2 separate regions of the Homo sapiens genome follow, and region 1 is linked to region 2. The links come from fine-mapping of genetic effects on gene expression. A gene starts in region 2. The other region holds a variant in brackets. All regions are shown on one strand. Distances are from middle to middle. Region 1 overlaps COPS3 (COP9 signalosome subunit 3). Region 2 holds the start of NT5M (5',3'-nucleotidase, mitochondrial).

Evidence for each region.
Region 1: its variant is fine-mapped to the expression of NT5M in whole blood (TOPMed, PIP above 0.99).

Annotation. Positions count from the first base shown.
Region 1 is chr17:17,250,890-17,253,801 of GRCh38, forward strand. All of the region lies in intron 9 of COPS3 (COP9 signalosome subunit 3), which reads right to left. Among named protein-coding and RNA genes, the nearest start is that of FLCN, 15 kb to the left of the region's middle. RefSeq lists a silencer at 301-403. The variant T/C (reference allele first, on the strand shown) is at 1,291.
Region 2 is chr17:17,302,235-17,305,146 of GRCh38, forward strand. NT5M (5',3'-nucleotidase, mitochondrial) reads left to right here and starts at 1,139. Exons shown (of 5, transcript NM_020201.4): 1 at 1,139-1,583. The coding sequence starts at 1,317. RefSeq lists silencers at 1,069-1,238, 1,289-1,388, 1,519-1,708.

The DNA of each region.
Region 1 (2,912 bases), 51 kb before region 2:
GCAGATGGAATGTATCTAAGCAAAATTTGGACCTACCTTCACCACAGCAGCACTATTCATAATAAATTAACCAGAACTGGAAACAACCCCAATGTCTAACTATTTATTTATTTACATTATTTGAGACAAGAGTCTTGCACTGTTGCCCAGGCTGGAGTGCAGTGGCGCAATCTCAGCTCACTGCAAGCTCCACCTCCCAGGTTCATGCCATTCTCCTGCCTCAGCCTCCCGAGTAGCTGGGACTACAGGCATCTGCCACCACGCCTGGCTAATTTTTTGTACTTTTAGTAGAGACGGGGTTTCACTATGTTAGCCAGGATGCTCTCGATCTCCTGACCTCATGATCTGCCCGCCTCAGCCTCCCAAAGTGCTGGAATTACAGGTGTGAGCCACCATACCCGGCCTATTTATTTATTTTTTTGGAGACGGAGTTTCGCTCTTGTCACCCAGGCTGGAGTGCAATGGTGTGATCTCCAGTCACTGCAACCTCCGCCTCCTGGGTTTGAGCGATTCTCCAGCCTCAGCCTCCCAAGTAGCTGGGATTACAGGCGCCCGCCATCATGCCTAGCTAATTTTTTTTGTATTTTTAGTAGAGACGGGGTTTCACCATGTTGGCCAGGCTGGTCTTGAACTCCTGACCTCAGGTGAGCTGCCTGCCTCAGCCTCCCAAAGTGCTGAGATTACAGGCACCACGCCCAGCCTGTCCAACTAATTAAAATGGAAAGGTGTATCAAACACTGGAACATTGTAGCCCTGAAAACGAATGAACTACGGCTACATACAGCATCATGCATGACTCTCACAATGCTGAGCCAAAAAACCAGATTCCCAGAAAGAATGTGCTGTGTGTTTCCTTCTACATCAAACTCAGAAACAAACAGAACTAAAATAGGATGTTAGAAGTCAGGATGGGAGGCCGGGCACGGTGGCTCATGCCTGTAATCCCAGCACTTTGGGAGGCCGAGGTCAGGAGATCAAGACCATCCTGGCTAACATGGTGAAACCCCGTCTCTACTAAAAATACAAAAAATTAGCCAGGCGTAGTGGTGGGCGCCTGTAGTCCCAGCTACTCGGGAGGCTGAGGCAGGAGAATGGCGTGAACCTGGGAGGTGGAGCTTGCAGTGAGCTGAGATCGCACCACTGCACTCCAGCCTGGGTGACAGAGCAAGACTCCGTCTCAAAAAAAAAAAGTCAGGATGGGAACAACCTTTCTAGAGAGGCACAGGGCTGGAAGCAGACACAAGGGATATTTTCCGGGTGCTGGTCATATTCTGTTCCTTCTTCTAGGTG[T/C]TGGAATCTTTGTGAAAATGTGTTTAGCCGTACACTTAAGTGTACTTTTCCAATGTTTACTTTAAAAAACAAACAAACAAAAAAAAACCCTGGTCTCACAGACCTTTCATTCCAGAAGGGTTTCTCAAGCCTGGCAGTCCTGACATTTGGGGGCAGATAACGCTTTGGTGTGTGGGCTGTCCAGGGTACAGATAACGCTTTGGTGTGTGGGCTGTCCTGGGTACAGATAACGCTTTGGTGTGTGGGCTGTCCTGGGTACAGATAACGCTTTGGTGTGTGGGCTGTCCTGGGCACTGCAGGACGTTTAGCAGCATCCCTGGCCCGTACCCATTAGACGCCAGTAGCACCCCCATCTGTGAAAACCAAAACTGCTTCCAGACGTTGCCTAATGTCTCCTGGCAGACAAAATCACCCTCAGAGGAGAACCACTGCTCCAGAGCCTGTCAGGGTGTCTGGGCTGGTTAAGCAGGGCTCAAAACTCACACCCACTTTGACCCCGCAACGCGTTGCTAGCTAGTATGTCCTGTCTGGTGTCATAACCACTCATGTATTTCTTCTCACTCGCCACTGAAGAGGGAATTTCTTGGGGAAAGCGTCTATAGCTTATTCTGTGTAACCCCTGTGGGGTTACCAAGATGCTCTTAGCAGACACAAGTCATAGAGGTATGGTTTTGTTTGGTGTGTGCATGTTTTGAATGGTAGGTTGAAGCAAAAAACCCTTTAGAACACTTGTAAATTCAACTATCAAAATGAAATACTCAGCTGGGTGCAGTGGCTGTATCCAGCTGTAATCCCAGCACTTTGGGAGGCCAAGGTGGGAAGGTCACTTGAGGCCAGAAATCTCAAGTTATGCCTGGCCAACATAAAGAGACCCTGCCTGTACAAAAAATTTAAAAATTAGCTGGGTGTGGTGGCACACATCTGTAGTCACAGCTACTTGGGAGGCTGAGGTGAGAGGATCATTTAAGCCTAGGCAGTCAAGGCTGCAGTGAGCCATGATTACGCCACTGCACTCCAGCCTGGGCAACACAGGAAGACCTTGTCTCAATCAATCAATCAATCAATCAAAATACTCCAAATTCTGAAATCATACAAGGGGTCATATGAAGCTTTGCCTGTCCTGAGCTAAGGACACAGGTTTTCAGTGAACTAAAACCAGATCAGAACTATGTACTTATGTAACTGAATAGGTAGGTAGATTACAATACATCAATGTGGTGGGTTATCATATAGTCATTTAAATGATGCTTATCCAAATCAGGAGTGGTTGCCTGGTTGGGGTGGGGCTGAGAGTGGGGAAATGCAACTGGCAGGTGATAAAGAGGGAGTGTCAGGGCACTGGTGCTATTTCATTTCCTAAGCTGGATGCTAAGTCCTGGGTGTGTGCTCTGGCCTCCTTTATGTCAGTGCTGCTTATGGACCAAAACCCTCAGTGACGGAAGAGGCTAAGTCAGAATGTCAGTCAATGATGTCGCTAAGCACACTGTGTAGTTCAGCAAACATTGTTCAGCAAGATTTCTTGCTGCAGCAGTTGCTTGATGTACGTACTGGCAAAAGCTTGTGATCTCATCACAGATAAGCAGAGGAAGTAGCCCTACCTTATACCTCTTTGTATACCAAAA
Region 2 (2,912 bases):
TACCATAGAATACTTCACAGTCATAAAAAAAGAATAAGATCATGTCTTTTGCAGCCATATGGATGGAGCTGGAGACAATTATCCTAAGCAAACACAGGAACAGAAAATTAAATACCTCATGCTCTCACTTAAAAGCGGGAACTAAACATTAAGTAAACATGGACGTAATGATGGGGACAACAGACACGGTGACCTACTTGAGGGTGGAGAGTGGGAGGAGGGTGAGGATGGAAAAACTACCTATCAGGAACTACGCTTATTACCTGGGTAATAATAATCTGTACACTAAACCCCCAAGACAGTCAATTTATATAACAAATCTGCACATGTATCCCTGTACTTAAAAGTTGAAAAGAGGCCGGGCGCGGTGGCTCACGCCTGTAATCCCAGCACTTTGGGAGGCTGAGGTGGGAGGATCGTTTGAGCCCAACATAGGAAGACTCCTGTCTCAAAAAAAAAAAAAAAAAAAAAAAAATTACCAGGGTGTGGTGGCAGGCCCCTGTGGTCCCAGCTACTCAGGAGGCAGAAGCAGGACGATCCCTTGGGCCCAGAAACTCAAGGCTGCAGGGAACCGAGATCATGCCACTGCTTCCACCCTGGGTAACAGAGCAAGACCCCGTCTCCAAAAAAAAAAAAAAAAAAAAGCAATACAGGGGTACTTAATATTTATTCATATATTTACCTGAGAATCATCAGTTTTACTAAGGCTGTATGATGTTAGCAGATATTGGTTCTATCAGTCTCTCCGCAGACATTTGCTGTAAATAAAGCAGAGAGGCTTTCAGAGTGCACCCTGTTTTTGTTCCTCCATCCTGTTGTCTGGATCCCCTTCTAAAACGTAAGTTCCAGGATGGCAGGAACTTTGTCTATTTGGTTCACACTCGACACAGTTAGTGCTCAAAAATGTCTAACGACACAGGCCTGCTTCTCGGTTTGCACTGCTCCTCCATGGTAGTCTGTGCAGTGGGAGAAGGCAGCCCGGGCCCAGGGTCCACGGAGAAGACGCAAATCGACAGCGCGGGAGCGCGGACCTTCTGGAGGCGCGCGGCGCTTACCGCTGTCCGTCCTCGAAGCCCCGCCCCGGGGCTCCGCCTCCGCCGGCGCGTGTTCCTTTAGGGACCGCGCGCGCCGCGGCCTCGCTCTGGGGCCGGTACTTGCGCGCCCGCACCCCGCGCTCCCCGCCCCGCTCCCCGTCCCGCGCTCCACGCGCGCCCCAGCGTTGGGGGCTTCTCCTCCGCGGCGGGAATGTCTGGCCGGCTCCGGCAGCACGGCGCGGCCCAGGTCCCCGCGCCCACGACGGGCCAGCGCGCTGGGCCATGATCCGGCTGGGCGGCTGGTGTGCGCGGCGGCTCTGCAGCGCGGCGGTTCCCGCGGGGCGGCGCGGGGCGGCGGGCGGGCTGGGCCTGGCGGGAGGCCGCGCCCTACGGGTGCTGGTGGACATGGACGGCGTGCTGGCTGACTTCGAGGGCGGATTCCTCAGGAAGTTCCGCGCGCGCTTTCCCGACCAGCCCTTCATCGCGCTGGAGGACCGGCGCGGCTTCTGGGTGTCGGAGCAGTACGGCCGCCTGCGGCCAGGGCTGAGCGTGAGCGTCCCCGCCCCGCCCCGCGCCGGGCCTCCTTCTCGCCCCGAGCCCCAGACACCGCCCCTGCGCCGGTGACCTTGGACGGTCAGCGCCCCAGCCTCGGGGTGGCCCTCTGATAGAATAGGGTCTGGGGGGGACTAGGGGCCACAGCGCACCGGGAAGATGCGGCCCCGCGCTCAGGATCTGTTGGCTGCCATCCAAGGTTTCTGAAAATGCGGGAGAGTACAAAGTGTTAATATACCTAACTCTGCATTTAAAGCTGACTTCAAAATTTGTGGCATATTTGGCCTCAAGTCGTTTGTTAAATTTTTAGAAAAATAAACGTTATAAGTTGTCCTCTTTCACCCCGACCGCAGTCACATTCCCACTTCTTTGTCCCCAGGACTTTGATGGGTGTCTTTACCCATCTTTTTTACTGTTGTCCATGAAAGCATAGCTTCCAGGGGTATTTGAGGCCCAGAGAGGTTGTGTGACTTTCTGGGGGTCACACAGTGAGTCAGTGGTCCAGGTGAGGTGGGATCCACCTCATGTCTTATCCCCTTGCAGAGCTGGCCTTGCTGAACACCTGAGCTCAACCCCTACCATCCGACTCCCGAGGTGTTCTGTCCAGGATGGATAGAGGGGAAAGATCCAAGGAGGGACGTTTACACACAGATCTTGGTTGGTAAATTTGAAGTATTTTGCAAAAGGAACAGGGGATTTTGGTATGCACAAAATTAAAGAGGCTGAGTGTTTTTTGGCATCCCTTGATTGGCCACCTAGGGTTGCTGCTGGAGGGTTTGATAAAGAGGAGAAGGAAGTTACAAGAGCCCGTTTTTTAGCCACAAGTTCACTGCATCCTCTCTTTTGTTGGGTAGATATTATTATCTCTGTTTTCCAGATGAGGAAACTTGCCCCAAGTCACATGCTGCTCAGGGGCTCAGTCAGGACTCAAACCCAAGTCTGTCTGCCTCCCAAGCACAGTTAGTGCTCCCCACTCCACAGTCCTGTTCTCTGTACTACTGTCTCTAACAAGTGACATTTCTTCTGACATCAGAAAGATGCCTCATCAGTAATGTGGTTTGTTGAGGGACAGGTGTTAAAAAAGGAAACCAAGTACCGTTTGTCTCCATCAACACCAGGCACTTCAGAAGGTGACTTTCACAGAGCCCAGTGTGCTGAGCTCTTCTACAGCGGATGCCTAATGATAAACTTTAAACTGGAGAAAATGCCCTGGTACTTTCTGCAGCCTCAGGAATAGGCTCCAGTGTGTGGCGAGTGTTCATTTATAGGCAGCGCTCGGCATGGGGAGTCTGGACACCATATATCCGCCCGGGAGTGTATTAACGT